2 separate regions of the Homo sapiens genome follow, and region 2 is linked to region 1. Evidence: fine-mapped expression QTL. A gene starts in region 1. The other region holds a variant in brackets. All regions are shown on one strand. Distances are between the middles of the regions. Region 1 holds the start of LINC02421 (long intergenic non-protein coding RNA 2421). Region 2 has its middle 55 kb from the start of IFNG.

The links.
Region 2: its variant is fine-mapped to the expression of LINC02421 in tibial nerve (GTEx, PIP above 0.99).

The regions. Positions count from the first base shown.
Region 1 is chr12:67,720,385-67,737,295 of GRCh38, forward strand. LINC02421 (long intergenic non-protein coding RNA 2421) reads right to left here and starts at 9,091. Exons shown (of 5, transcript NR_110063.1): 1 at 9,012-9,091; 2 at 1,995-2,329.
Region 2 is chr12:68,096,563-68,113,473 of GRCh38, forward strand. No RefSeq gene overlaps it. Among named protein-coding and RNA genes, the nearest start is that of IFNG, 55 kb to the right of the region's middle. The variant G/A (reference allele first, on the strand shown) is at 6,361.

The sequences.
Region 1 (16,911 bases):
GGGTGCATTCTCGTGACTGCTACTTCCCTCCTCACGTATCATTGGTCTATTATTAAATCAGTCCTTGTCTCAGGGGATTAATGACCTCATTGGCTGAGGCCTGAATTCTTGAGCCAATCACCCTGGCAAGGGGGCTGGAATTTCCCATAGGCCCATTAAGTCTACTGTCTGGGCCAGTTCCCCTGAAGCATGTGGGTTGTGGGGAGGAGGGACTGATGTCTAAATAAAAAATCTGGATATCTTTAGGAAGGGAAAAGGGAAGTCTCATCTATGATACTGAAATTTGAATCCCTATCTATCTGAGGGCAAAGTCTGTGTTTATTTATCTGCAACACGACACCTCTTAAAATTTATGGTGGCTACAGCTTTTAAAAGTTGTGGTTTTGGGAGCAGGAGGATGGGGTCAAATTCTAAGCCACTGAAAATCATCCTGTTATCTATGCCATATGTGTTGTCAAGCCTGGTTTTAAAGGCTTCATAAATTGTCGATGAGCTGGCATGTGCAGTAGAAATATAACCATCATAATAGCTAATAATTTTAGAGCAATAATGATGCGTCTGATACTGTATTTTATATCCATTCTCACACTTACTGCCCATGGTACCTATTAGATAAGCATCCTTACTAGTTGCAGTTTATCTAGGAGGACACTGAAGTCTTAGGGGGTTAAGGAACTTCCCTGAGAACACAGTTAAGAAGGTAACTGGCTGATTGTCTGATTGCAAAGTTGTAACAGCTCCTGTCCCTCCTCACAATTCTTACTCTATTGCTTCTCCAGCTTGTTTCAACAATGCTTTTAAACAATAAGTTTGCTTTTCAGGAGCCATCCTCTTCCAGGTGAGAGTGGGAGAGCTTTATGTTCTCTCAGGCACTGTATTAGTGGCACTCTACCAACATGGGCTTGCGATGGCCATTGAAGGCTCTTAAGACTGGCACAATGCCAACGGGAAGGGCAGGTTGCCCTCAATGTCCAGGAATTGTAGGTAGCCGAATACAGTGCAGTGCTTTGGAATTACAGCACTTGGCTGACCTTGTAAAGGGAACTGTTTTCCTTATCCATTTTGGTTGCTTAGCTATGTGTTAGTACACACCAAGATCATGTGGAGCTGGCACTTCAGGAACCGAAAGAAAGACAGACAAGGACCAAAATAACAAGGGCCATGCAGAGAATTCCACTGGTCATCTCAGTGACAACTCATATGATTACAGTAATCTTTACTGTGGGTGTGCCCTGCTTTAGGGAACATATGTTAACAACAGATAAATGAAGGAGTGATTATTCACTTTAAAAAGGCATAATGAATTTACAGAAGGATTCACTGGAAGAGTCTTTTAAATATCAATGAAATGCAAGTAAAATGCAATTTATTATACACAATATCATGTAATATGTTTTCAAGAGTACAGTCATTGGGTTAAGGGCTGTTTACATAATTATATTTTGAAGAAATATAATTCAGATAGCTTCCACAAGATCAAATTTCAATATATTTTCATATGTCTATACATCAAGATATATTCATTAGGGCCCTACTATGTGCAAGGCACTATAATATATTGACTCAGTAGGTCTAGGGTGGGTCCCAGATTCTGCCTTCCTAACAAGTCCCCAGACCACACTTTGAGTAGCGAGGGCTTCTAGAGATTCAGGCCCTCAGCTTCCACGGCTACTGATGGTCACTGGGTGTTGTGGTCTGTGCAGCTGGAGTGAATCCCTATTACCGTAATTGTTCCAGTCTCTAAGACCTGAGTGAGAGCACCTGGTTGGCAGCACAGGCAACACACCTGCACTTTATTCCTTGGAGAGTAGAAGCTTGCTATCTGCTCTCTTCCACTTCTGTAGTGGAAGGTAGGCCCTGCTTCCCACCATGACTCACAATAGAAAAAATCCCTAAACAAGTGCAGATGCTGAGCACCTAAAAAGATGATAAATGTCCACTGTATGAACTATGCGAATTTATAAGTAAAAACTTCATTTAGTTATGTAGCTCACCTTTGCATGATCCATTGTGCAGATGTGGAAGTCCCAGGAGCCTGGTCAGCCACATGATTCTAGCCTTGGACTCTTCCCCCTCCAATCTCAAATGGAAGAAATGGCTCTCCTTTGTCACATGCCCTTTCTTATCTGGCATGCAAAATGCTCCACATTCCAATTTTCATTTGCTTTATTTGTTTTCCATTTAACTGCAGTTTTTTCTTGTGTCAGGAAGTTTTTTCTCTGGATTTAGTTTGTGAGAGATGATGAACTCCCCAGGTATTTAGTTCATCCACATGTTAGGATTTACATGGCAAGTTCTCCAATATTAAAAAATAAAGGTAAATCTTATGCTGCAGTTAAGAAGAATGAGAAATGTCAAAGTTTACAACTGTTTGTTCCCCTTTTAGGTTCACTATCCCCATCTAAACTGTAAGCTGACTTTTATTAAAATGTAACATTTACCTTCCCAAAGTGAATTTGTCTTCCTATAATAAGAATAGGAAAATATCACAATTTACTGCAAAAAAATAGCAAATACAGAAAAAACCTAAGTAATTTTTAATAAAAACCATAATTTTAAAATAATGCCTTTCTTAAATATACAATACTCTAACAGAGGCCAAAAAATTGGCATGAGAATTCAAATAAAATCTAATATCCTATGAGAAGAAGATATTGGACAAAGATGCTTGTCAAAACACTGCAATATAGACTTTGATTTCCACATATGGTTATTCATTACCAGTCACTGAAGGGCAGGAATCATAAACAGACATTTCTTGCCTGGAAAGTGAAGACAGTAGGTTTAGATTTTGTTAAGTTAGACAGAAAAAAGGGTACTCAGGACTATCAGTCACTTGGTTGAATTTCTCCACTTTTTAATCAGGTGTAGATATAGCCCATCAATAAAAGGGTCCAACTGCTGGAGTGGACATGAATTGTGGGAGGCTGGATACACTGTCCTAGATGAGGCATGATGCCACAGGGTAGGCAGAGAAGCCTTTCTGTCTTTTCTTTTCTTCCCTAGACAAACAGGAAATGTTTAGCTCACCTAATTTAAAACTAACTATGGGTAACTTCAACATTTACTTCATAAATACAGCAAATTTGAAACGCTTTGGACTCGAGGTCCCAGAACCTGATTTTAATTTTGGTTCTGGGCCAGGCGTGGTGGCTCACACCTGTAATCCTAGAACTTTGGGAGGCTGAGGCGGGTGGATCGCTTGAGCTCAGGAGTTCAAGACCAGCCTGGGCAACATGGTGAAACCCCATCTCTACAAAAAATACAAAAATTAGCCAGGCATGGTGATGCCTGTAGTCCCAGCAACTTGGGAGGCTGAGGTGAGAGGATGGCTTGAGCCGGGGAGGCGGAGGTTGCAGTGAGCCATGATCGTGCCACTGCACTTACAACCTGGTCAACAGAGCCAGATCCTATCTCAAAAAATAAAAATGAAACAAAATAAAATAAATTTTAGTTCTGACATCCTTTCTTCATCTGAAAAGGAGAGGGTCAGAGTAAATGATTATAATGATTTTTCCTCTAAGATTGTGTGAGTCTAATGACTAAAATGATTTATATCTACAATGTACTCTGTTATGAGAGATACAGGATTAGGACGGGACTTGAACTGGAGATGGAAAACTTTAAGATGTCAGAAATACTTGGAGAAACATGGGAAATATGGGAAGATAGGTAGGTAATAAGAGGAACCTTAGTCAAAAATATCCTCTTATTGCTTCTCCCATTCCTTGGGGCTGTGGAATGAGGGACATATTTTGCCACAATCATTAGCTGATTCAATGTTGTTTGCAGCTCTAATATCTGTTTCTTGAGAAGCTTTCTTCTGAATGAGACAGTCACAGCAGCAACTCGCCACAAGGAGAAATGATTTTCTGGTTATTGGTGGAGGTAGCCAAAGCACCATCACGCCACGGGCAAGATAAAATCAAGTCTAAGATTGCAGATTCTCCATCCTTGATTTTTAAGATTCTCCTCTTAAATAAAGGACATGCAATCACCATACATGGACCTATGAAATGTGATTCAGAACCAGGGAAGATGTAAGAATCAGGAACTAAACATTAGCCACTGCCGTGAAGCATCTAAATGAAGGTGTCTGCTTTCTGGTTTTCTACGTCATATTTTTCAATGTGTTGAAAAAAGAAAAAGGGGAGTCTGGCTTTCAAGAAAATAATAGTCTTAAAATTCTCTGCTAGGTGAGAGTTACATGGATCTGGATGGATTTACCTATTGTTTTTCTTTTGTGGCTTGAACCATCCAGTATAGCAAGCAGAAAGGAATTTTATTATTCTGCTTTGACACTGGAAACAGTAGCTCAGCACAACACTTCCTACAGGCCCTCAGTGTGTCCAAGTCTTTCGTATACATTATTTAGCACTCACAAAAGCTCTGTGAGATTGGTGAAATGGCCCCCATTTTGATGTGAATATATTATAGCAACTCTGAGATGTATGTCAAGGTTCCCTAGGGATCCCACTCAGGTCTCCTCACTTCAAGTCAGATATATTTTGAGCCACTACTCAGCTTCTGGACTCATCTGGAAAGAGGCATGGCTGTGAAAAGAGAATGGACTTGGCTCAAGAGCAAGTCAAGAAACCAACCAGGTAAAGACTGAAAACATTGAGGCTAGCCCAGCCTCAAGACATCAGTGTATATTGGGACCATTAATTGTACAGCGTCTGCTGGGACAATGATGTGCACATCACAGCCTAGTGGGTTGAATAAATGAGTGAATGATACATGTATTTGCCTCTCTCTCTGGAAGGCAGAGTAAATATATGGAAGTTTGTCCAAAAGAATGAATATTTCTAAACATAAATTGAAATGCTAATTTCGAATAGATCCCTTTGCCTTCCTTTCTGAAAATGAATTTTGATCTAACTAATTAGATTGTTCCTATAACTTAGGTAAATTTTTCAACCTTATTTCAAGTGTTAACTTTTGAGGACTGGAATATAATGATGAGTGACCACATGCCCTGATAAATCTTGAGCTTACCAGCATAAAAAGGAAACTGCATAAGCTTGTGTAATTTATCAGAATTACCAAAAGAAAACTGGCACGCAAACCAACAATTTTCCATTAGCTTGAATTGTTTGCTAGATAGGAAAGTCAGTTAAGAACAAATCTTCATATTCTAATAAAGATTTTACTTCGCATAGGTAGCTTTACATGTTATCAAGGAATGGCACTCCCTTTCTAATAGATTAAAGGCATCAAACAAAGGGTTTACAATTGAACAGATCCAGTGCTATCAGAATTTGCTTTCTCAAGTGTAAAATATTTCAGACCATAGATAAGAGTCAGGGTAAAGATAAAAGTAGTATCTACAAATAGGTTAAAAAATTAAAAACTTGAAGGAAGTAAAGACCCAAAAAACTTTTAATTATAAATTATTGAAAACAAACACCAACCATGAAGGAATAAGGTTAAAAAAGTATGGCATATCAATTCAGTGGATATATGATATTATGAATTATGATGCTGATGTCTCTCTATTTTTATACATGTTTCCATGTCATTCAATTTATGCATCATACTCTTATCTAGAAGAGAAAGAAGGACTTAATGAGAATCACAGATGCAGAGCTACATGTATTCGCATAGAAAAATGTCCAAAAGTATTGTTGACTAGAAAGGCCAAGTTGAGGACATTATGTCCAATCGCATTTACATGTACATGTTCATAGAAAGAAGTCCCAAAGGCAAAATGTAAATCTTATCTTCAGGACAAGATTTTGTCTTCAGCAAAATATAAATAAATGGTGGCTGTCTTCAGAGAAGGGGAGTTCAAGTGATTTCTACTGTCTTCTTTGTGCTTTTCTGCACTATTTGAATTTTTATATGAAGCATATATCACATTTTGGAAGAAAGAAAGCTAGACGGCATTAAAAAAAAAAAGCAGAGTAATAATCATTAGCAGTAGTGGCAGCAGTTGGTTTGAAAAAGTAAAAACCTTTCTCAACAGAATAACAGATTTGTAAAGGCACTTCAATTTGGTGGCCTTGTGTTAAATTATTTTTTCTACCACTTGAATGGTGTGTATAAATATAGGCTCTGAATGGAATTCCACCAAGATATTAAGATAAAAAGCAGAATATAAAGATGAAATTTCAGCCAAACATCTGAAACCTTAGTCTAAATAATACCAAATGTTTATCTGTTTTCTATCATGTACGAAAAGTACATAAATAATGAAGTTTTCATTTGTCATGCAGACATTGTTAGAATTATCGAGCTACAGCCCAGAGGGAAGGGAATGAGGTAAGGGCGTTTTATTTTGCTCCTGTTTTTTTGGAGACATTTGTAAGCAAAAGAAGTAACAGGGTCAGTAACATCTCAAACACAAAGGAAGTTTCAATGCACAGGACATCATCAGATATATGTTTCAGACCTAGTGACAAAATTCAAACAGCACTTCATTGTTAGAAATAGAAGATTACCCAATGCTCAAATCCCAGTTTGATGCTCAAGAGATACAAGGATATAGGGAAAAAACCAAACTGTTGCTTCCTGCTCTCTACTCTGTACTCTCGCAGTCAGTCAACACTTCTGACACCAGGTGTGTGGGTGTTTTTCTAACATACCAACCGAAACAAGTCTGCAAGGAATTCTCCTGTGGGCACTGGCTGGGTATGTTCTAATTCAATCCAATTATGACACTATCTACCTAGAGATAGCATCAGATACCACAGGTTGATGGCTCAGTCCCACAGGATTACCCCCCTCTTCAGATGCCAGTCACGAGCAAGTTGTGACCTGTGCTTCTGACCCATGGCACCTCCTTTGGTTTGATTAATTTGCTAGAGCAGCTCACAGAACTAAGAAAAATGCTTTACTTATGTTTACTGGTTTATTGATATAGAATATAATATAGGACACAGGTGAACAGCCAGATGGAAGAGATGCGTGGGGTAAGGTTTGGGGGAAGAGGTGGGAGCTTCCATGCCTTCCCCATGCGCACCACCTTTGGGGAACCTCCATGTGTTCAGCTATTTGGAAGCTCTCTGAACCCTGTCCTTTGGGGTTTTTATGGAGACTTTATATGTAGACATGATTGATTACCATCATTGGCCATTGCAGATCCACTCAACCTTCAGCACCTTTCTCCTCCCCAAAGGTTGGGGAGTGGGCTGAAAGTCCTAACCCTCTCATTGTGTTTTGGTCTTTTCAGTGAGCAGGCCCATCCTGAAGCTACCCAGGGGCTGGCAGCTACTGGCCATCTCATTAGCATACAGTGACACTATTGTCACTCTGGAGACCCCAGAGGTTCTAGGAGTTGTGTGTCAGGAAGCCGGGAGGAAGACCAAAGATATATATCTTATTAGAAACCACAATATCTCAAGAGGTTTAAGATTTAAATGGTTATCTTTCACTTTATCTATTCAGAAATTTGGTCTGCAAGAGTTTAATGTTATAAAGATTAGCAGACAACTAGAGAGAACTAGATTTTGGATTAAGCAGGAACAACTCTCCTCCCTGACGATTTATTATTCTCTGCCTTGAATAAGCACTGGCATTAGAAAGCTAAACCACAGAACACATACAGAATATTAGTATTCAGTAAATAATCATGATTGCAGTCACCAAGTGCAGACAGTCTGCAGTGGGAGTGTTCCCGGTCTCCCTTAAAATACTGCAGCTGTTACATTAATGGGTGAGGATCCAGGGTAATATCAAGGAACAAAGATTGTTGAGTTTGATTAGTTCTAGTGGATGTCATCTTCAAAATGCAACTAATTTGATAATACCAGAGCATTTCTGAGGGAAGAAGGAAAACAAGGATAATGTTATGTAAATAGACATTATTATTTTCATCTCTTTGGATGAAACCGTTGACATAAACCATTCTAGAAGCAAAATGAAGCAAGGAAGTGAGAAATGAGTGAAGCAGCCCTTTCTGTCTGTAAATAATTGCAGGGTGGGCTGACAGCTCTGGGCCAGAGGCTGTAGAGTGGGCCCAAAGCAGGCTGGCTTCCCCCTAGTAATTGTCATAGTAGCTAGCATTTATGGATGTTTAATATATTCCAGGCCCTTTCCTAGCTGTTTCACATGGATTATGTAATTTAATCTTCACTGCCATCCTGCAAAGTAAGTACTATTATCACTGTCATTTTACAGATATGAAAATTGAAGCTTGGGAACGTTAGGCAACCTCTCAAGGTCACACAGCAAGGAGCGGAGCTGGCATTTGGACTCAGGCCTACGGCCTCCTGAACACACTACATTCTATTGTTTCTAAAAGCTTGCTAGGTAAGAAGGGCCTTATTATTTATAATCCACCAGGGGCTTCATCCTCTAGTTTCAAATTGAGCCGCTTTTTTTCTAATTTGATGGCTTAGAAATAGTCACTGTCAAGCCAAGACCATTTTTATGCTGTTGTGTTTGAAATACTCTCCTTCCACCTGTCTCCTTTCCCACCTCCCCTAGTTCTTAAAGCTGGTCTACAGAAGAATTAAATATCTACCTAATTTGAAAACAAGAGGGAAGGATGGCCCTGGAAATGCTTAGAACTAAAATTTGGGTTTTGAACCTACTGGCAGTATTCTTGCCTTACTCAGTCTAGTGACTTGAAGATGGCCAGTGGACATTAAATGTTCCTGGAGACTTGAATCACTATTAAAGCCCAACTCATCCTTGGTTCAAATTCTTTTATAAAATAAGAACAAAGTTTACGCAGGTAGTAAATAAGTGGTAATGCATATTCAGCACTCAAGTCAGGCTTGATTATCTCCACTAACCTAGAGAAAGGTTAATATGAGAGTGTGCATCCAATTTTCCTGCTCCCATTGAGGGAAATAAGGTGGTTTCATCTAGACGTTTGAGCCTCAACTCTTTCTACTTTTTAGTAAATAATTTGTTTGTTCTCATTCTTTGGAAGATGAATTCTTTTTGAAAACATTGACCTCTTTTATCGCTTTTGGTTGTCTATTGTCTTTGTCCATTGTCTGTTGCTGTAACAGAATACATGAGACTAGGTAATTGTTTTAAAAAAGAAATTCATGTCTTACAGTTCTGGATGCTGGGAAGTCCAAGGTCGAGGGTCTGCCTCTGGTTGCTTCTGGTGAGGGCATTGTGTTGTGTCATAACTGGCAGAAAGCATCACAGAGAGCCAAACTGGCTTTTATAACAGACCCGCCCTCTGATAACTAAACCAAGCCTATGATAACACATTAATCCATTAACCCATTAATCCAGTAATCCATGAATGGATTAGTCCGTTCATGAGAGCAGAACCCTCATGACCCAATCACTTCTTAAAGGCCCCATTTATTAATATGGTTACACCGGGGATTGTGTTTCAGCTTGAATTTTGGAGGGGAAAAACATTCAAACCATAGTAAATGTCTAAATCAGGACATTACATTTTTCATTAATGGTAACTATTACCATCAGAATTACTGAAATTTATTTGTAGAGAAAATTTCAGATGTCCTCAAGATATCCTCAAGGTGGTCACAATTCTGTTAATAAATTATTAATCAAAGTGCTAGATCACTGAGATTTTAGTTAAGAAATCATTCTAAAAGTTCTCCTACTAAATCTGATAAAATCATTTTTCAGAGAGAATACAAATTTAAAAGTATAGTGTTGAGCAATGGAACTCATAACATTCATGTCTGAGTGCTAGGTTAGACCTAGAAGATGCTGAAAAATCTATAGTTTGAGTGGATAGGCACAATGGTGCTTCTTATTATTAAAATAGAAAAAGTGACTAAAACATCTTTTTCCAATTGGAGAGGTCTTGTTTCCTTTACCGTATTCAGCTTCCATAATGAAATTTGTATTCCTGCTTTAGTTTTTGTATCTTGTCCAGATTTTTACTCAAAATATTAGTCAAGTCATGTATTTTCACTGTTTCTCACTATTTAATTAGGTCCAAAATCTAACCATTTTATTAAGTACAGATGAATTACCAATATGTCTTCATGAACGACTCCTGGGAGATAATGAGCAAGGGGAGATTTCTATTAGGAAGAAGAAAGAACTGAACTAGTGAGCTGGATCTACATGTCTCCTGCTAAATTTAAAGGCTGCCTGGTTCTTTTTGCTTGTTAAAAGTCAATTAAGCAACAGGTTTTTATTGAGCATAAAATATTCTGGGCAAGGTAATGTGCTAGATATATTGCAACATAGTGGGAAGGGTAACACCCCACGTTTAAGAATTTAAGTCAGGAGATGAGAAATATGTACATAAAAGTATTATTAAGAATATAAGGTAATTCAAAGCAGATGGAGAATAAGAAGAAAAGAATATAAGGTAAATGTGAAATATTAGTATGAGCAGTAAGTGCTGAAAGAATTCAGAGACTAAGAGTTTGCTTCTGGGTAATCTGGAGAGACTTCATGGAGGAGGCAGGATCCAATATGTACTGGGAAGGATGGTGTGGTGGCTGAATTAGTTGCCTAACCAGCATCTATTCACTCTTCTTTTCATACTTTAGAAACCATCCCACATACAGCACACTTGTTTCAGGGAAAGCAAACTCCCTCTTAAGCTCCAAGGGAGAATCCTAATTAGTCTAATGCCAAGCCAGTGATAGTAACATCTCTTCCCTCATGATTCATTCAGAGAACTAGGCTTATGCCAATCAGTAAATTGTAGTTCCTTAGCAATTGGCATTGATCTAGGAATGGGCACAGGAGTGCAGCACACTTATCTCAGGAAAAGCAAACTCCATCCAAGTTTGGGTCCAAGCAGTCTAAGAGGAAAGATGTTTATTTCATGATTGGGCATCAGATTGGTACTCTCTCCCACTGGACATGAAAAAGACATCATCAGTTGCCCCAGTTTCTTCTGGTGACCATGTTAAGAGATGGCATGAAGACAAAGCTGATACCTGCAGGAAGGCTGAGGCTGGAGAACAGGGGAGATGCAGATCTGGAGCCCGTTCCTGTGGTGCCTGAAGTTTGATCTGCCTCCAGATCACCTATTGTGTGAAACAATATATTCTCTCAATGCTCTAGCCAGTGAGAGAAAGGCTTTCTGTAACTTTCAGCCAAAATCATCCTGTCTTCAATAGTAGAGTGGACATAAGCCGGTTGCCCTCTTGGCATTTCTTTCCCTTTTTTCTTGGCAACAGAACCCTGGTTTTATTTTGGAGATCCCTCCTCCACCATTTTGCCATGTGGTTTGAACAGGAGAGATGTTCTTTCAGCTCCAGATGGCAGTTCTCTGGATGCAGTGATTGATTCAGACATGGGCACAAGAGAAACAAGGAAAATTTGCTGAGGCTTTTGAAAAGAAGTTTTTGCTCTTTTGCATGGGAGCTGCCAGATACATGGTTCTCTATTCTCCTGGATGGCCCATGAGCAACGGGGGCCTGTGTTAGTTTCCTAACACTTCTGTAAGAAATCACCACAAACTGGCTGTCTGCAAACAACAGACATTTATTCTCTCATAGTTCTCGGGGCTGGAAGTCCAAAATCGAGGAGCTGACAGGTGATGTGCCTTCTGAGGTGCCTCTGAGGCTTTAGGGAAGAACTCTTCCTTCCATCTTCCTAGCTTCTGGTGGTTGATGGCAATCCTTGGTGTTCCCTGGCTTGTGGCTGCCTCAGTCAAATATCCGCCACTGTCCTCACCTGGCCTTCTCCCTCTGTGTCTCTAAATCCATATTCCTTTCTTCCTGTAAGAACACCAGTCACCGGACTAGGACCCATCCTAATTCAATATGACCTCATATTAATGCAATTACACTGCCAAGATCCTATTTCCAAATAAGGTCACATACTCAGGTCCCAGATGGACAGGAATCTGGGGGGAACACGATTCAACTGAGCACAGGGTCTAGAACTCTTGCAGCCATTTCTGCTATTCTGAAGGAAACCAGCCTGAGAATGAAATCAACACACAGAGCCAAGATCATCTCAAAATAAATGACATCATGAACTTCTGAATCAAACTGTGCCTGAATGTGCTTTACTTTGGACTTTTAGTTTACTTGAGCCAAGAAATTTCTTTTTGTTTAATCCACTTTGTGTTGGGTTTTCTTTTGCTAGTTACAAAAATATTTTAATGAATAAAAGTGGATATGAATTTGGTGACAGGAGGAAAAGCTCTTGCTGAACAATAGAAAATGGCATGAGAAAAAAATCAAGAGGATAAAATAAAAGGAGTGTTGGAGAAAAGGTTTGGCTAGAGGAGAGTATTCATTAGTGGAGCAGGGGACATAAAGGTGGATAGTTTAGCTAGTGTAAGTTTTTGGAGGTCTGTAAATGTCAAGTTAAATAATTTGAACTTTTTCTATAGAGCAGATGGTGTCTATAAGACAATTTTTGAACAAGGAAGTTGAATCAATTAATGTGCCACTGAAGTGCAGGCTATTTTGGAAGGGGACAGATTAGGAGAAGAAGTATTAATTGCAAGAGGCTAGAATCAGATTAAAATGTGTTGCTCTGATGTTTCCCAATTCAATCAAGCGTCCAGCCATAGATCGTAATTTCTGGACTGGGATTTAGTCCATGCCTATTCCTCTGAACTCATTCCGTCCCACTTGCCCACCCTGATCTTCTTCCTGTCCCCAGAAGAGACCACAATGATTCTACATTTGGGCCTTTGCATTGGCTGTTTCCCCGGCCTGAAATGCTTTTTCTTCTTGATCTTTGTATGTCTGGCTCCTTCTTGTCATTCAATTCTCAGGTCAGCTGTTAACCTCATCAGAGAGGACTTTCCTGACCGGTCGGTCTAGGGTAGCCACCTGTCCCTCTCTATCATACTGCCCTACTTTGATTCTTTACAGCATTAGCACCACCTGCTATTTTATTATTTATTTATTTATTTATTTATTTTTTAGTTCTTCCTCTCCCCTAACTACAAAGTAACCTTCAGAAGAGTAAGGAACTTGGCAGTCTTTTCATTGCTGTATCCTTAGAACCTAGTAGGAGCTCAGTAATTACATCTTGTATAAATGATTAAGTAATATATTTAGCTATGAAGTTTTAAAGTTGCTGAAATATTGAATAAATACATAAATTCTAGAAGAGTGGCAAAATTAAATGATTTTGCCAACTGAGAGATAAATAAAATATTTTAAATATAAATTTTACTCAAAAAGCAGGCAGGCGTGGAAGAACTAAAGTATGTAAGTATTTTTCTCAATGTTCCAAAGAAACGAGGATAATTTTTAAAACATCGCTCTTGTCTCTTTAGGCTGTTTCCACCAGAAATGCCTTGGGCATAAAGAAAAGCCCTGGGGAGCTTTGAGGGAATGTATTTAAGCCTTTCTGTTTCCATTTTTCCCCAGTGGCAGTTTCATTTCAAGGCCAGTGTTCTATAACTAGCTCTAGGTTTCTAGAGCAATCTACGTCTCTGAAATGATTTGGAGTAAGACACATTCTCTGTTTTATTGTATCTATGATGGAACCCCTCCTCCCTCCCATTTCTTCTCTAGTAAGTAGAAACTTGTGTGTTATTTGCCTCCACAAAAGGGGTTTTGACCTTAGCATGAAGCTATCCTACCATTAATCATTATCTTCTTTTCCTTGAAATACGCCATGGGGCATTTACCAGCCCATTATGAAAAATTTTTGTCACATAGAATGAAGCCCAAACAAGCCTTAGCAAAGTAATAAAGGGGAGCATTCTATGATGCAGAGAACTTCCTAAGGCTGCCTTTCTTTATTAGTCTCCCAGGCTGCAATTACTTATAATATACCAGTGTGACTTTTTCTGAGATTATAATGAATGAGCTTATGTATATTACTGATTTGCCTCTTTAAGCTGAATTGGCTGGTAAATAATTTGAAGTTGCTTATCCAGGCCATGCGGAAAAATACTAGAGTGTTGACTTGAAGGAATGGGCCAGCCTGGGTGAACTGGCTACTAAATTCAAATGATAAATATAATAATAGCTCAAAAGAGATACACATGATACACATCTGAATTCACTGCCAGTCAAGTTTGGGAATGAAATTCTAAAGGCTTCATGATTTTGGTTTGCTAAAACGTTTGTAGTGAATACTATTTGAAATTACTAGTATGTTGGCTGGGATTTAGAAATCTTTAAGTCACGCAGAAGTTTTTGTTTTTCTCCCTCCCTCCCTCCTTCCTCTTAATAGTTTCATTACTTATAATGGCATTTAATCAGGGATGTCTTTTGAATAAATACCCTTAAGGAAGGCCTCTTTAAAAGTAAGAACTTCAAGGGAATTAATGGAGTTATATAATAATGAAATACATTTTATAACTATTTGCATAGTTTAAAATGTTTGACCAGTACCATGCATTTTCAAATTAAATAATCTTTTCTTTTTCTTTTTCCTGGAGAATATGTAGTTCTGTCATAACTACTGTAATTTGTAAAAGTTGTAAAGAACCATTTTAAATAGGCTAAGATGTATACTGGAAAAGTTAATGTACCACAAACTAAATATGTGTAAGTTTATCATGAGATGTGTGTGTATTTTAGAAATCTCAGCAAAATTTTTGCATTTAATTGAGCAGTCACATTGGAAAGCTATTAATTTATTTCAGCAATGTTGCATTTTCCAAAATATTTTTGGGCTGTGTCTTTGTAATTAAGAACTTATAGCATGTTCTTTTGAATATTGTTAATGGCAGATTTTCTTCCATCAAAGACTGATTTGAATGTTGGAAATAGTCAAAATGTATTTGTTCTTAAATCAGTTTTATAAAATAAAAGATCAACTTGTGTTATAATCTTTGGAACTGTAGACATAGCAATACAAGAACATAGGATTTTAAAGCTATTTCATTAATTTTCTTGAGTGGTTCAGAGTGCATCTGAAGTCACTTTTCGAATTGCGATAAATATTTGTTTCCTATTTGATTGCTGTTTAATTTACTTCTATGCTATAGAGGAAAATGTTTTAGATTCCCAGTAATCATCTGACATAATTACTCTTTTGGAGCTCAGGAATCCCTTTACCACTGCAGTACAGAAAAGAGCATCTGCAGATATTCAGGTGTATTTTAAAGGCATCTCATCCCCCGTCCCTGCATAACTCAGATTTATGCAACAGCAAGATGAAAACTACAAAATAAAATAGAAACACACTGTTGAACTCCATGTTCCTGAGATAAAAATCTGTCTTTTAAATATGCATCTCTGAGTGCTCTACAATGAATAAAGACAAATGTATAGGGGACCAAGACTCATCATTGGTGAAACAAAAATATAATGGGAAGTTTATGGGTTGCAGGCACAGACACAGGGAAAACTGCACTTGAATGAGAATAGGTTCACCAACCACTTCATTACTCCTGATTGTATCCACACCCTTGATTCATTTATTCAACAAACATATATTGAGCATCTCCTAGGTGCCAGGCACTGTTCCACTGTTCTTAAGGGCTAAGGTTCTGTCGTCGAACATACCTTTCCCTGTTCTCATGGAGCTGACATTATGGTGGCAAGGACAGACACAATTAATTAATTATATATTTTTAGATATAGTGTAGTTGTGTGTGTGTGTGTGTGTGTGTGTGTGTGTGTGTGGAGAGAGAGACAGAAAGAAAGAATAATTATAAGTAGTTGTAAAAGGTATGAGGAAAAGTTCAGTAGAGAAGGAGATAGAAAGTGATGTGGGCATTATTTTAAAGAGGGCTCTTGGAGACAGCCTCTCTGGGCGAGGTTGGGAGGTATTTGAGGTGAAGCCTGGATGACATTACAGAGCCAGCCTTGCCAATATTGGGAGATAAGCATTCCAGGCAGAAGCAACAAACAGGAAGAGGCTCTGAGGTGGGAGGGGCAGCTTGGGGTGATTGAGGACAAGCAAGGAGACCAGGGTGAATGGAGTGGACGGAGCAGGTGGGGGCTGGTGGGAGACAATGTCTGAGATCACCAAGGGCTCAGACCGTAGCGGGTTTGAAGGCCCTGTGAGGACTTGGAATTTTTTTGGAGTACAAAAGGGGGCCATTGGAGAGATTTTAGCCAGAGCAGTGACATAATCCAATTTCATGTTTTTAAAGACTCTCCTGTTAAATTTTGTATTTTTAAATAAATTCTCTGCATAATAATGATACTAAAATTTATTGTTTTCCATGTGCCAGGCACTGTGCCAGGCATTTCACATGGGTGCTTAGAATAAAATCCAACTCCTTTCCATATCTTACTGGTATGAGTTGAATTGGGTCTCTCCAAAAAGATCTGTTGAAGTCCCAATCTTCTCTACCTCTGAATGTTGGTCTTATTTGGAAATAGGGTCTTTAAAGAGATAATTAATTCAAACAAGGTTAAAATTAGGGTAGACCCAATCCCATATGACTGGTGTCCTTATAACAAGGGGAAATGTGAACATTGACAGATATGCGCAGAGGGAGGCCTATGTGATAAGCCACAGGGAGAAGGCCACGTGAGGTAGAGGATTGGAGTGATCAATCTACAATCCAAGGAACACCAAAGATGACAGGCAAGCCACCAGAATCTAGGGGAGAGACTGGGAACACATTCTCCCTCACCGCCCTCAGAAGGAACCACCTTGGTTCTGACACCTTGGTGTCAGACTTCTAGCCTCTGGCATTGTGAGAATAAATATTATTTTAAGCCACCCAGTTTGTGGTATTTTCTTATGGCAAAACCCTAGGGCACTACTACAGTCTCCTTCTCCCTAGCCCGTTAGGGTCAGTCACACTGCTCTCTTCTATACATGCCTTCAGGCCCTCTGCTTAGAGCAAAAGCCCCAGGGTTCACCCATGGCCAGCTCCTTCCTGTCCTTCAGGTCCCAGGTCAACAGCACCTGGTCTCCTGATCTAAATAAGCACCCCACTTCTACTCCTGGGCACCCTACCCCTCTACTGAAGGACTCCCAACAGTCCCTATTTTAGTTATTTTTTTCATAATACACCCACTACCTGAAACAATCCTGTTAGTTTTTTTTTTTATTTGTTTACTGTCTGTTCCTCATCTGCTCCTGTTCTGTTCCCCACCTAGAAAGTCAGGTAAAAGAGCA
Region 2 (16,911 bases), 380 kb after region 1:
TGGCTTCAGCTGCCACTCATACCCAAAGGGTTCCCAGCTTTATATTCCAGCCTTGATTTCCACTGCCAATTAGCTAGTACTGGGTATCCCACAGGTGATTGTAATTCATCCTGTTCAGACCTGAACTCAGCATGTTTTCTTTAAACTTGCCCATCCTTCTAGGTCCTTATCCCAATGAATAGAACTATAGTCCACTTACATGTCCATGAACCTGGAGTTACCTTAGATAGTCCCTTTCTCTACCCAACCTCCGTGTATAATCAACCTACAATCTTTTGTACCTGTTACATACTCTTTTCTCTCAACCTGTGCTATCATAGGCTTCACACAAGCTCTCATTACCTCTCACCTGAGATAATATGATGGAGATCTAATTTGTTGACCTGCTTCTAGTCACTCCTCTCACCCTAGCCTCAACCATCTTCCATTTGGCTGCCAGAGAGTTTGCTCACTGGTTTGTTTTTGTTTCACACCTGCTCAGAATCTTTCAGTGGTTCTCAAACATCTAAGGAGATTCACAATGGCCTGCCTTCTGCCTAGCTCTCCAGGCTAATGTACCATGACACAGCCTGTGCTCTAGTTATCGAGATCTTTTTGCCATTCCTGGAGCACATCAAATTCTCTTACATCTTTATTCTTTCACACAGGCTCTTTCACCTTACTACCTACACACACCAAGGCATGTACACAAACCACAGAGAATGCCTATGCACAAATAACTAAAAGTAGGCTGTAAAACTTCCTCGCTATGAGAAAACACACAAAAGAAAATAGAGAAAACACCAACAGAGCAAAATATTTCAAAAGAAAACATATACAGCAGTCCCCCCTTATCCATGGCTTTATTTTCCAAGGTTTCACCTACTGGGTCAACCTAGGTCCAAAAATATTAAATGGAAAATTCCAGAAATAAGTAATTCCTAAGTTTTCAATTGAACACCATTCTGAGTAGTGTGATGAAATCTTATACCATCCTGCTTCATCCTGCTCTATCTTGCCTGGAACATGAATCATCCCTTTGTCCAGCATAGTCATGTTTGATACGCTACCCACCCTCTACAATGTGATTGTATAGGAGAAACGATAGTACAGTATATATAGAGTTCAGTATTATAAGCAGTTTCAGACATCCATTGGGGATCCTGGAATGTATCCCCTGTGGAAAAGGGGTGACTACTGTAATAAAACAATTTAAGATGATATAAGAGAAACCAAACATGTATGTCAGATAAATAAAAGTCAGACACATTCACTTCTTTAAAGGACTCTAATTGGATTTTAAGAAGTCTAAACTCAAAAAAGTGATATAATATGTAAGAAAAGTTACTCAAAAAATTGGAAGTATCATTTCCATCCTTTTAGGATGGGAAAATACAGTAAGCAAATGAAAATAAAAGTAAAGCAGGGGTCAGGATATTAAGGATATTAATGTTAGGCATGGTTGAATTCGAGGAATAGAACTTTATGGTAATAATAAGTAAATGCAACCCACAATGAAATTCTGAGCCTAATGCATCTACATCAAATAGCATCACATCTACATTCTTAAAGCAAAAATTATTAAAATATAAGGAAAAATAGAGAGACAGTAGCCATAAATAAGTTTAATTTATCTCTCTGTCTTTGATAACTCAAATAAACCAAAAATAAGAAAAGACATAGAGGACTTAACATAATTAAGAAGGTAGATCCTCACATGGAAAAATATATACCTCCCTTTCAAGCTCCTTTCATCTACAAAGTTTGGCCATGTCTTATTAGGCTACATATTAGTTGCCTAGGGCTGTCATAACAAAGAATCACAAGCTATGTGGCTTCAACCAATAGAAATTTATTCTCTCAGTGTCAGCAGGGCCGTGCTCTCTCTGAAGGCTCTAGAGGAGGACCCTTCCTTGCCTCTTCCTGGCTTCCGGTGATTGCCAGGAATCCTGGGCCTTCCTCGGTTTGTGGATACATCACTAGAATCTCTGTCTCTATTGTCACATAGTGTTTGCTGTGTGTATCTCTGTGTCCAAGTTTCCCTTTTCTTAAAAGAACACCAGTTATTGGATTAGACTAGTTATTAAATCCAATCCAGTATGGCAGTATGATATTGTGTTCCAAAAATAAAATTCTAACCCCACGCACAGACTGAATGGACCCTCGTCTCAACCAAGGGGATCCAAAGAAACCTGAAAATCTAGTTTGGATCATGATGGGATGGTGGAGTGGGGCAGGGGATGTTGAACATGACTCATTATACTCTCCTCTTTTTGGAATTCAGGCACAAAATTGACCAGCATTAACATTATAACAGAGATCCTAAGACTGACAGAACAGACTCTTTATAGCCATAAGATACCAAATTCTAACCTGTCTCTAGTACAGCATTACATGACAGCAAAGTCCTGAAAGAAAAAACATATTTTGAAATAGCACTGCAAACCTGTCTCTTGTGGAGGAAGTTTTACACTCTATAGAGATTCTCCTTCCTTTACTAGGTCTCTCCAGAGAGCCTGACACCTTTGATAAGAGATGTTCACATCTATTCTCTCTGAAGCCTGCTACCCAGAGGCTTCATCTACATAACAAGAACCTAGGCTTCTCTAGCCCTCCCAACTTGCCTTAACTCAGGCTAGTTTCAACTCTTCAGGCACAGCTTCACCCTTTCAACCAATTGCTAATCAGAAAATCTTTGAATCCACCTACGACCAGTAAGCCCTGCCACTTCAAGTTGTCCTGCCTTTCCTTATTAAACCAATGTATATTTCATACATATTGATTGATGTCTTATGTTCCCTAAAACACATAAAACCAAGATGTAACCCAACCACCTTCGGCCAATGTTCCTAGGACCTCCTAATAGGTCATAATCCTTAACCTTGGCAAAATAAACTTCAAAATTGATTGAGACCTGTCTCAGTTACTTTTTGACTTATGACATCATCTTTACTTGATTATATATGCAAAGACCTTATTTCCAAATAAGGTCATATTCACAGGTACCAAGGGATTAGAACTGTAACATATTTTACAATTCAATCCACAGCAGGCCACATAGGAAACCTCAGTTTCAAAACATAGGAATAGTATAGATCATATTCTTTGATCATAATGCATTAAAATTAGAAATTAATAACAAAAATAGGAAAATAAATCTTTGCCACATGAAAATTTTAGAATATCTCTTAACTCATGAGAAATCCAACATGGAAATTAAATCCAACACTGCAAAATCCCTAAAAACTAATGATAAATAAAATTTTAATATAACCACAAGTCAGAAGAAAATTCATAGTTTAAAACAAAAATTACTAAACAGGAAAAAAAAGAAAAATAAGAATTTAGAAAGGAACTTCAAATTACTCTTAAAGAAAGTAGAAGAAAGCAAATTCTATAAATAAAATCCAATCAATGAATCAGAAACAGAAAAGTAATGGAGCTAATACATACATTAAAAGCTGGCTCTTTGAAAAATGAACACACATTAAAATGTATAATCCATGCGTTAGTTACCTAGGCAAGTATAGTGAAAGAAAAAAAATGAGAAATAACCACAGTCACGAAACAGATTTATAAGATAATAATTTAGTCCACTTTGTGCATATAAATTCAATGACAAAGAAGTTTCCCCAAAAAACTAAAAAGTTCCCAGATTGATTCTAGAATTAATTTCTAGGTTTAGGTAATTATAAAAGTTCATCTCCACAGGGTACAGAGGATGAGTAAATGTTATGTGGGACCCAGGACATTTTTGCACTTTTTCATGCACTGTTCTATGCATTGCTCCATGCATGTTAGGCTTTCTAGAATTCCTGGCCAGTACTCACCAAATACTCATCACCACCCCATTACTGTGGTGACCACGCAACTTTCTAAAACACCCTAGAGACAGACAAACCAGTTAGACGGCTGTTGTCATAAATCAGAGGCAGGAGAGGGTAGGGCAGGAGTGAGATGAAGAGGAAACACAGGATTTTTGACACACTATAGTGATTAGAGATTGGTTTAGGAACCAGTTGGAGGGTAACACGGAGAAGGGTGGTGAGAAAATTAGGCTGAGTCTGATTTAGGACACATGAAAATTTTAGAATATCTCTTATACAAAATATCTCATATACAAAAACATGAGCGTTATTCAGTTGAATATGATTTTACTTTCTTACATCCAAACACATTTATTGTGTTAGGTACAAGCATTTGACTACTTCATTATGTCTAATATAGTTATTTTTAGCATTTGTAAGCTAAAATGAATATTATATTACAGGTAGATCATTATGTTAGATTTTGCAAAGTATGTGCATAGCAGGACTATACTTACCTATGAATTTCATTTCAGGAAAATAAGCGAGTTGCAAAATATAGTCCTTTTGATTGTCCCCAAACCCCTCCCCAGCCATCCTCCTGAAGGGCCTGTTGCCGACCCCAAGACACTGCTTCCAGCAGACTCAAGTCTTTGCAGAACCCATGATTATGACAGTTGTCTCTACTCTCAGTTACCAAATGCCCTGATATTTATAGGCTCTCTCTACAGACACAACTGCAACTGTCCTTCTAAGAGTGGCTACAATAAATCCTAAAGTCCTGCAGCCTCAGGGAGGGCAGGAAAATGGTGGGGGCTGGCTCAAATTCCTAAACACACACACACACACACACACACACACACACACACACACACACACACACACACACGCCCTCTAAGACAATACTTAGAACACATTTAGGTAGCTTACAGCACGCGAAGCAGGGAAGTAGTAAGATTTTGTCTCTAATAAGCATTATGCAGCACTAAATGGAAGAAAAAACCAAATAGCGAAATCACTCTCCCTCTCCGAAAGAAAACTACTAGCAAATAAAAATACTATTGTCTGCCAGAGTCCACACGGCGCCACGTGGAAAGTTCCCCAAATTACATTTCATGGATGAAGTTTGATTTAGAAAAGCACCCCCGGCATAGTGTTCTCAAGAGCTTTCAACACAGAGCCATGCTTCAGACACGCAAAGCTTCTGCTCTCTCCTATGCTATTAACATTACATCATAGCCTTCAATTCCCTAAAAGATAGAATCTTTTCTCCCCCCACTGGCTTAAGAAAGGCTAGTCTACTAAAGAGGTTTTGTCCACCTGCTGCGGGAAAAATTGGTGAGTCACTAATAAGAAAATTTACTCACCGTTAGAGGAATTAGGAAAAGGAGGACTATTGGGTGTGAACTCAAAGAATGGGAGTCTCTACAGCCTTAAAAAGTCCAGTATCAGATAGAGTACATTACATTATCACATTCATTCCTTCATCCATCCACTCTGTCATCTATCCATTCACCCATTAATCAAGTATGAACTGTGTGCCAGTCAAACAAAAGCAGAACAAAACAACACCTTCCCCCCAACACACACACAAAACACACACAAGTGCCATAATACAGGGCAACAAGCGCCATGTTAAGAGATGAATGGATGTACCAGGTGGTAAGGGACCACTCATGACAATGCACAACCAGACTTGGAGGGAGAATTTTGGGACTTCCTGAAAAGAGCAGTATTTAGGCTGAGACGTAAGGTTCAGCGGGAGCTGGCCAGGTGTAGGCAAGATAGTGATGGAGCAGAGGATAAAGGGTCTCAGAGGTATATTTGAAAAGTCCTAGGGTCAAGCCAAGAAAAGAGAAAGTTGCAGCCTTGAGTAAGAATGGGGGCAACAAGAGAGAAGCCTGAAGAAACAGAGTGCCAGGATACAGGCAAGGGATTTAGACTCCCTCCTAAAGTCACAGAAATAAATGACGAATTTAAACAAAGGAGTGGTATGATCCACCTGTCCTGCTTTATTTTACAACATACAATATAAAGTATTTGCAGTATTTTTTTTCTTTCTGCTTCCCATAACTCTGGACATGTGCTTCATAAGGACAAGGTCCTCAACAGCTTTGTTCACTGCTTAATCCCTAAAGCAAGAAGCAAACAATGTCTGACACGAAGTAGACAATAAATATTTGTTGCATTAATCAAAGGAGGGATGCATGAGTGTATTCTTCCGTGTATTCTTAGCACCCAACTGAATCCCCTAGCACGTTTACTCAGAAACTTGGTCACAGGGATATTTCTGTGCTAAATTTTTCCCATTACCCAGTTTCAAGAGACAACTAGTTTGCATTCGAAGTACAAAATATCCTACATTTGGAAGCTCTGGCAGATCAAATGCTACTGGAAAAATTTAAGGGCTAATAAATTATGAATGAAATTAATAAAATACACTTTTTTAAAGGAATTTTAAAGTACCTGGTGAAAGCTAGATTTCTAAGGTGGTAACTTTGAGCTGTTTCAGTAGCACCGTGACAGAATAAACATCCCTTCCCTAAGAAAGCAGCTTACAGCTAGTATTTCCACA[G/A]AGTCAGTGCCTAAAGCCCAAGAGGCTCTCATGAATTTCATATGTGGTTTAACCTACAAAGATTTGCATGTTTCCTTTAACGTAAAACCAAGTCAATTGATGAGAAGCTGCTGTGTCCATCACATATCTTCTACCAATTTCCTAAGGCATGGCTTTTCTCCTTTCTAAAGAATTTTATTTTTGGTAACTCTGGGCAACTTTTCCTCATCCAGTTGTTCACAATGAATTGATGATTAAATTGTAAGAGTGCCACATTAGTTTGGGACTTTATTTTCTGGATTGAAAAAAGAGAGCATACAGGCATTTTTAGCAGAATGAGAGAAAACTATTCATTAACTCTTCCTCTTCTCACTCCCTTTACTTTTGTTTTCCTTATTCCTTCTTGCTTCTCTCTCACGCATATGCACTCTCTCCTGGGTGAGACATATAGATATGGATATAGATATAGATATAGAGATAGATGTATATATATACACACATACATACATATATAAAGACATTTTGATAAATTATATAGATAAATTTTTCATTTTATACATAATAAAAGTAAATTATATATAATATATATAATTTTTCAAAGTTACTTGATGTAATCAAGTTATTTCTAGAGGCTGGGCATGGTGGTTCATACCTGTAATCCCAGCACTTTGGGAGGCTGAGGCAGGCAGATTGCTTGAGCTCAGGAGTTCAAGACCAGCTTGGCCAACATGGTGAAACCCCGTCTCTACAAAAAATACAAAAATTGGCCAGGCATGGCGGTGTATGCCTGTAGTCCCAGTTACTCAGGAGGCTGAGGCAGGAGAATCTCTTGAACCTTGGAGGCGGAGGTTGCAGTGAGCCAAGATCATACAACTGCACTCCAACCCAAGCAACAGAGTGAGACTCCATCTCAAAAAAAAAAAAAAAAATCTAGAGATAAATTAAGCCATATTTAATGTCTGGACACCAGAGGATCTAGACTGGTGAAAACTCACATTGCATCTGAGGATAGCTAGCCTGCTGCAGTGATTGATAGAGATGTTTTAGTTAAGACCCTGAACTCCTTACCATGAGATCACAGATAGCCCTCAGGCTTGAGGATGCCCAAATTTAGAAATCACAGGATGAAGATCTCATACAATGAAATTTATAAAACATCCTATTAGACCTGCAGGTATAAATATGATATCAAACTTTCTCCCAGATGTGAATTTAAAACAAGACCTATTATCCGTGGCATCAAGCTAAAATAATATGTATGGACTACATTCTTTAAATAAATTATGCTATAGTTGAAGATCAGATATATCCAAAAGGCACACTGATACATATTAAAACTTTAAACAACTTTTTATTGGAAGAAGTCTTAAAAAGCTAAAGAAATGAGTCTAATAAGCACTTTGATTTTTGTTTTTTTGAGACAGGATCTCACTCTGTGGCCCAGGCTGGAGAGCAGTGGTTTAGTCACAGCTCACTGCAGCCTTAACTTCCCGGGCACAAGCAATCCTCTCACCTCAGTCTCCCTAGTAGTTGAGCCTACAGATGCACATCACCATACCTGGCTAATTTTTCTAATTTTTGTAGAGATGGGGTTTTGCCATGTTGCCCAGGCTGGTCTTGAACTCCTGGAGAGGAGTTAAGCAACCACCTGAGGTTGCCCAGCTAGGAAGTGGTGGAGCTGGGATCCAAATCTGTGCACATATACCCCAGACTGAGCTTGTGAGCTCAGATTGCAGCTCCTGAGTGAAGAGATGCTTTTACCACCTACATCATAGAAAACATGGATGCTGTCAAGCTCAACTTCCTTCATCTTTGCCATATCCCCTTTTAATGTACCTATCTATATTCTCACTCATTACATATATGCCTCCTTCTCCACTTCTGTCTATAGAGCTAACCCTTAAACGTGCGATCTTCACTTATCTCCTCTACCACCTGATACTACTCATCTCCTCTCTCCATCAATCTCTTGTTCCCTTGTCTTAATTTTCTACCTCCCCAATGGCTTTCCCTTAAATTATAAAATGTGAAATCCACTGCCATCACTAGGGGAAACCTGCTTCTCTCTGTATTGACTATCCAATTTTTTCCCTCTGTTTACAATCACATTTCTTGAATAATAACTTCACTCTCACCCTCAATACTTCCATCAGCTCCAGGCTTCATGGGCTCTCTAAAATTGTTCTTAATAAGATCCAACATTACCTTCTATCTGTTCGCTTAGTCCAATAGATCGTCAGGCCTGATCTTACTTGGCTCCGTAAGATATCTGACATCACAGCCAACACCTTCCTTCTTGAAAGCCTCTCGTCTCTTCACTTCAATGACATCTCTATTTCCTCCCTTCTCTGTCCTGTTACCCAGCCATTCTTATCAAATGTTGGAGTCTCCAAGATTCTATTCTTGAACTTCTTTTCCTACTCAATGTGTTCTCCCCAGATGATCTCTTTCTTATGGCAGTTTCAGGCCTGAATTTCCAATGACAATTGTTATCAACAACATGATATTTTATCAGCCACTCAAACTGTGTGGCTCAAACTGAACTAATTGTCCCCTGACCACAAATTCTCATGCATTCCTTGCAGGTTAATTATATCACAACAAACTAACTGAAATCAAAAATTGGGAGTCAACCTCGATTCTTTCCTCTCCTTTATTTCCTACCGGTCGTGAAATCTTTGCTAATTTAAACTCCTGGATATCTTTGGAATTCATATCCTCCTTTCCCTCCTCATTGTCATATCTTTCTTCAAAGTTGTGCCTGTATTATTGCAACATTTTAAAATTTATTTTCCTGAACTTCTGCCATACTTCTTAAATCAACTCTATATGTGATCCTCAGAGTGATACTTCTAAGACACAAATTTGATCAACCATGGTAGGCTAAATAATGGCTCCCCCAAAGATATTTACATCCTACCCTGTGAATATGCTACCTTACATGGAAAAAGGGGCTTTAAAAATATGATTGAGTTGAGAATCTTGAGATGGAAAGTTATCCAGTATTATCTGAGTGGGCCCAATGTCCTCACAAGGGTCCTTATAAAGTGAGAAATAAGAGGATCAAAGTAAGTAGTAGGTGATGTGACAGCAGAAGCAAGAGGTTGGAGTGATTTAAGGAAGTGGGAGATCAGGAAGTGTTAAGCACAAAGTTAACTTATACCTTTAAAAAAAAAGGAAAATTAAAGACAACAAGCAGATATATACATTATATAAATAAACACAAGAACTTGTTAAACTTGTGAAACACAGGACTACCCAAGACAAATGTTTCCCTTTCCATTTCTACTCTAGGCTATATGAGGAATCTATTTTTCTCTTTTTCTTAGAACTCTTACTCTGCAGGATCAAAATGTCAAGCAGTGACCACATAAGTGGGAAGTAGATCAAGACGTGCTTATAATTACATTCTTGTGGTTGGTATAAAATTCTGTACCACAGCCATTCCTTAGAAGCCAGCTCATGGGATCAAACAGACAAGCAAGCTCACTTCTCAAGCCCACGATGTTACGTATTAGTCCATATTGGTGAGTTCCTTTGTGCCCAAACTTAGCTGCCGCACACTACAGTGATAGGAAACTGCCAACAGTTTTTTGTCAAACCCACTACAGTGGATCCCACAATGGGCTGAGACCTCGTCTAGAGTCATCAGGTTTTCCAGGATGTGCAGATGGCCTGGAAACTTGGCCAAGAGGTAGGGATCAGCACTCTTTAGTAAGCTGTATATCCACCAAATGCTGTGACACAAGGAATGGGCCTCAAAATGTTTCAGGCCAGCACAGCTTTGTCTTTGCAAGTCATTTTTCAGTGGCAGTTAAATATTGTGGCAAAGCCAAGGTACAGACTCACGTGCATTAAAATATGCTTATGAGTAATAATACCATAAGTATTTCCATGTGCATTAGGTGTCAAGAACTTCACACACATCATTTCATTCCCTTATCATGGCACTCAGTCTGGTGGGTATTACTGTATCTGTTTCACAATAGGAAACCCAGTATCTGAGATGTTCAGTGCCTTTCCCAGTTACCCAGTTGGTAAGTGGGAAAGTCAGGACATGAATTTTCAGTGATTTTATTAAAAAGGCAGGATGATACAGTGATTTAAAGGCCTAATTCTAGACCCAGGTTGCTTAGATTCAAGTCCCAGCTCTGCCATACTCTGTTAGTATAACTTTGGCCAAGTCACTATGCCTCAGTTTCCTCATCTGTAAAATGGGGATCATAATAGTATCTACCTTATGGTACTATTATTTTATTTATTGTTATTGTGAGGATGAAATTTGTTACTATAAATAAAATGCACTGCCTGACATATGCACTATATAAGCATTGCAATTATTATAATTGATTCCAAACTCATTGATGTCTTTATTTCAGTCTTCCTCTCCACCGAGTGTGTGTGTGTGTGTGTGTGTGTGTGTGTGTGTGTGTGTGTGTTGAAACTTAACATCTGGAATGGAGGTGGAAGGCAAGACTGAGAGATTGGAGATGGCGTCAGAGAGCTCCTAGCAGGTATGTCAAGGCTCTGATCCAATCTCTGGGCTAGCAGAAGCCTCCAGCAGCTCTCTGGGGCAGGAGCATAAGGAAACTCTAAGATCTGTACTTCTGCTTTAGCACTAAACCAGTACAATGTAGTCTCCCAACCAGGAAATGGATGGAGACTCCAACTCAGATGCTGTAGATCTTTGCTAAGGCCATTCAATCCATTCACAATAGAGTCAAAATGAGATCTCTGGAAGTTCTGAAAACTCTTATTGTGATTCAGGTCACAGAATTAATTTTCTGATCCTATAAGCTCAATATCTATGTCCTATCTTGAACCCTTTATCCACTTTTATGTACATAAATCTTTGTCTTTATCAGTGACTATTTTAGAGTGTACCCCTAAAAATAGCATTAAGTACAAGGATTTAACATTTTAAGGCTCATCATCCATACTGCAAACAGCTTTCCAGAAAAGCTGTGTCAATTCGCACTGGCTCTGCCACACCTACCCACCACTAAGTATCATGATTGAAAAACGGAAATCTTTGCAGTACAGGGACAGATAATGTCAGATTGAATTACCTTGTGTTTCTTTTATTACTACAGAGGTCAATTTTCTCATATCTGGAAGCCATTTGTATTACTTATTTTTAAGGTATTTATACTTTCAGTACATTTTTTCTGTTGGGGGATCCTGCTTTATTTAATGATTTCTACAAGATCTTTTTATAGTAATAAAATTATTCTTTGGTTATTTTGATGGCAAATGCTTTCCCAGTAAGTTGTTTGCCAATTAATTTATTTACTTTAAAGTATTTTCTAATAGAATCTTTTGAAGTTGTCTCATAAAAATTCAGAAAGTATTATTTTATACTTTCCTATATCAAACTGATGTATTTAAAAAACACATCACTCTTATTTATTATCTTTTGGCTAAAATTATACATTTCTTAAAAGGTACACAGAAATTTAAGTTTTGTCAGAATTCCAGCTCTTTGAGGAAGGAGGTCTGACTATTTACTCCCCACTGTGTCCCAAAACCAAACCTACAGCTGTTCCTAGCACACAGTAGGTATACTATTTAGTTCAGGTATACTATTTTACTAATAAGTTCAGTATTATTTTGGAATTTGTATGAAAGTAGCAAATCAGACTCCCAAATACTTTCCAGGAATAAAAGACAATTACTGCTGACATGCAAGCTCTCCAGTGAGATTGCCTGGTTTCCTGGTCAAGGTATATTTCATTGTTCTAATTTAAGAGCTTGTAAGCTGGGGGCTCTTGTTTTCTTTGTATTTCTAATTTTTTTACAGCATAGATAAATCAAAATTCCATGTGTTTCCCATGGTCTACCTGATAAACATACTTCAAAGATATGTCTGCCCTTGCTCTTGGTCTCCACTGTCACCACTCCAGTCTAAGCCAGCATCATGCTATCCTGACCTCCTACAGTGCCCTCCAACCTAGTCCTTTGATTCTTCTTTTGACCTCTTCCAATACCTTTCCATACACAGCTTGAAGCATGAGCATCTTAAATCATCAATCTGATGATGTCACTCCCCTTCTTAAAACCTTTTGTTGTTTCCCAGTATTTTAAGGATAAAATCCAAAATCCAAAGTCCCACATGTTCTGGATGCATCTACATTGTGAAAAGACCTTCTCCACCTTTCCTATTTACTTTCACTATGCTCAACCACACTGGCTGCATTTCAGATCCCCAAATAAGCCTCCTATTCTGCCCAGGACCACCCCACAGTCTGCTGCCTCTGTTCAGACAGCTCTGCACACCTCCTGCCTGGCCAGCTCCCTGTCATCTGGCCACTTCCTATGTGTCACCTTCCCCTATAATATGCTCCTTCCCCAGGCTACCTTAGGTGCCTATCTTAGTCTTTCCAGCACCCTATGGTCCACCATACTTTTAGAGCATTTTTCACAGTTTGTAATTGTATATTTAGTTGTATAATTCTTTGCTTTACCTTTCCCCTAAAGGACTGTAAGTTCATGGGGGCAGGAATGGGTCTGTTTTGCCCATCACATATCTCCAACACCTAGCAAAGGCCTGGTACATATTTTGCACTCAAAAAATGCAAGCTGAGAAAATGAGTGCATGAGAACAGCTCAAGGCCATCCTCTCCCAGGAAGCCTTCCTCACTTATGCCCAGGCCACTGGGTTACTTCCCTTTTCAAATACTCAGTAACATTCTTGTTTGCAATAAGACAGAATAAGCACCACTTATTTTGTTCCAGATGATGTATTGCACTGTAAGCAAAAATGCTTCTGGTTTTTATTTTTAAAGTCTTCCTTATTTTTCCCCCTACAGTGCTCATTGAGGGCAGGATTTGGCCCCCAGCTCCTTCTGGAACCCAATTTCCTTCCATGTTCCCTATCACAACCCTACAGACACTGGCCTCCTTGCTGTTCTCAAATACTCTTGACACATCCTTGCTCAGAGACTTTGCTGTTCCCACATTTGGAATTCTCTGCCCTGAGATGTTTGAATGTCTGCCTTCCTGCTCATGCAGCTGCTGCCCAAAGGTCACCTCTTCAGATAGCCTTTGCCTCCACCTTCTCTCCCACTTATCTCAATCCTGCTCAATTGTTCTTCCCAGCTGTTGTCACTATTTACCATTACACCACACATTAACACATGTTGTTTATCATCTGGCTCCCTTGCCAGAACACAGGCCCTGTGAGGATATGGGAACTTTTCTGTTTGATTCCCACCATGTGCCTGGCATGAAGTATTTCCTTTTAAATACTTATCAAATGACGGAATTTCAACTCCAAGGAGAACCTAGAGGCCTAGTGTAGATAAAAATGAACATAGTAGATTTTAGCTGGTTTAAGAAACTAATCCAACCTTCACTTGAGGATCGTAACTCAGAGAAGGAAGACAGGCATTCTTTAATCGATAGATTGCTTCAGATGCAAAGAGGCAAGTAAAGGAAAGAAGTTGGTTAAAAAATAAAATAAAGTAGAGAATAGTGGAGAAGAGAAACTAAAGTGGATGAAAGACAAAAATATGAAAATTGCAAGGATCAGAAATCCTTTCAGTAGCTATGTGACCACCAGAAAGTCAAAGTCCTGACTTGCTCCTCCTCCTGACAAAGGTGGCTCTGAATGAAGGGCAACCTCTCCATGCCGGCAAATCCGCTCAATGTTCATGCATTCGATGAAGTATGCCACACAAGATAGTAATCAGAGGAAACTCCCAAAAATCAAAATAAAAAGAATTAAAACAGTGAAGAAAGAATTATGGATAATAATAAAAAAGAAATTAGATGATAATGGGGAAACATATAACAGTCTCACAATGAAAAGAATATTTCCTTTATTAAACATAACTGGTATTACATCATTACATCAAACGGGTTGACCTGTTCAGAGTTCCCAAAAAGAAAAGGGTATAAGATGTTGTCACGTTGAAAACCACCCCAAATCTATAACTTGAGATTTGCATATATATATGAAAACATAAACAAGTTGGGTGTGTTAAGGCCTTGTTGTAACAGAGCAGTAAGAACTGTAATAAATTGGGGTGGGTGGGAGGTTTGCTGCTGATTGTCTGACTCAGAAAACAAGCCCTTAATCAGTTCTTGACCAGCCCTGTGTTTTGATTGCCCAACATAAGATTAGAATTATGTTGGCAGTTTAATATTCAATTGTTGAGGAGAAAATAGCTATGTCTATAATATCACATCCGGTCTCAGAATCTGCAACCCTCTGAAACAGTCTGGCTTCTACCATTAGCCATTACTTTGACCTTAGCTGATCAAACTTCTTGTATCTCAAAAATTAACTTCTATCAGAAATGAGTTCTTAAAATTCTTATTGACTTCCTTGATAAACTAATAATTCAGACTACACGAATCTGACAATAAAATTGAGAAAAGTCCAGGCACAGTGGCTCATGCCTATAATGCCAGCACTTTGGAAGGCAGAGGAAGGAGGATTGCCGGAGGTCAGGAGTTTGAGACCAGCCTGGTCAACACAGCAAGACTCTGTCTCTACAAAAAAAAAAAAAAAAAAAATAGAAATAAGGCTGGGCGCGGTGGCTCATGCCTGTAATCCCAGCACTTTGGGAGGCCGAGGCGGGCGGATCACAAGGTCAGGAGATCGAGACCATCCTGGCTACCACGGTGAAACCCTGTCTCTACTAAAAATACAAAAAATTAGCCAGGCGTGGTAGCGGGTGCCTGTAGTCCTAGCTACTTGGGAGGCTGAGGCAGGAGAATGGCATGAACCAGGGAGGCAGAGCTTGCAGTGAGCCAAGATCAGGTCACTGCACTCCAGCCTGGGCGACAGAGCGAGACTCTTTCTCAAAAATAAAATAAAATAAAATAAAATAAAATAAAATAAAATAAAATAAAATAAAATAAAATAAATAAAAGTTTAAAAACACGTTTTAAATGGAGGAAAAAAATGTGTTAATTATGGGATTGATATTTACATTGCAAATCAAGATTTAGGGAAAAAAGAAGTATATATATAAAACTCATAACTGAAGAAAATCTAAAGTATGAGGGAAAAATGGAGTAAGCAGTATATTAAATATGATTGTCACTTGTGTATTTAACTTTTCATCTTTTTCTTTGAATAAACTAACCATTCATTAGTAATAAGTGATAGCACACATTATTTATTTGTTCTTTTCCAAAAATATTCAGAGTAAACTATAAAACCCTTATATACAATGATAAATTCAAAACACATAATTTTACTTCTGGTCCAATTTGAAAAGCCATGCAATTAGATGCAAAGTCTCTTTCATTGGTCCCTGGAGCTCCAGAAGTTTTATCAGTGAGTCAGCATCTCTCCTCCTGTTTCTCCCTTGATAAAATGAAACTTACTGGGTGAAAGAAACAGAAAAGAAGGCAGGAGATCAAAGGATCAATTTCTTCTTCACTGATATTTTTAGAAGAGCTATGAAATTTTGTTTACAGATGAACTTCATAATTCTCACCATGATTTGAAGGTGGAAAGCAAAACAGTGAAAGAAATACACAAGTGTTAGAGCCTTAAAAATGACATTGACAATTACGTTATCATTTTATTAATTATATTCTCTGAAGCAGAATTCAGCATTTCCACCCACGTTTTCGTCACTGTGAATTCTTGAAAGAGAGTGTAGCATTAGAGTATTTGAAAGACATTTATCACTTTATCATGATATGCATAAGCTTAGGTGAGAAAAATTCAAATGATTCTATGATTGTCTGATGGTTCATTTTATAATCAATGGTTTTAGGATTCTATTCTGCACTGTATTAATCTGCTTAGGCTGCCATAACAAAACATCATAGAGTGGGTGGCTTAAACAACAGAAATATATTTCTCACAGATCTGGAAGCTGGGAAGTCCAAGATCAAGATGCTAGCAGGTGAAGTTTCATTCTGAGGCCTCCTCTCTTGGCTCATAGACAGCTACCATCTTGCCATGTGCTCACATGATCCCTTCTTTGTGTGTACAAGGGAGTGAGAGAAAGAGAGAGAGAGAGAGCAAGCTCTCTGGTGTTTCCTCTTTTAAGGTCACTAATCCCATCAGACCAAGGTCCAACTTTCATGACCTCATTTAACCCTAATTAACTCCCCAAAGTTTCATCTCCAAATACTATCACATTGGGCATTAAGGCCCATTTGAATTTCAAGGGACACAAATGTTGAGTCCACAACATGCACGATAAGGCACATATGTCACTTAGTCCTTAAGTCACTAAATAATATATATTTTAAGAATAAAAAATCTAATGTCCTAATAATTCAGGTAATCAAAAATATGAGTATATTTTATACATATAAATGTTTATTTTGTATGTAAATAATATATATAATACATATACATATATACTATATATATGTATATGTATATTTTATATATGTAAAATATTAAGTTCAGTTCCTTTATATAAATTAATAAGCATCAATTAAATGATGAGTCCTTTATATTCATTTTTCAGATGTCATACTTGAGAACCACAGAAATGAAATCTTGCTCCAGAACACACAGCTGGTTGGTGGCAAGGCCCCGCCAGCTGATTACCAGTCCAGTGCCCTTTCCAGCAAACCACACCAACCTTAACTGGT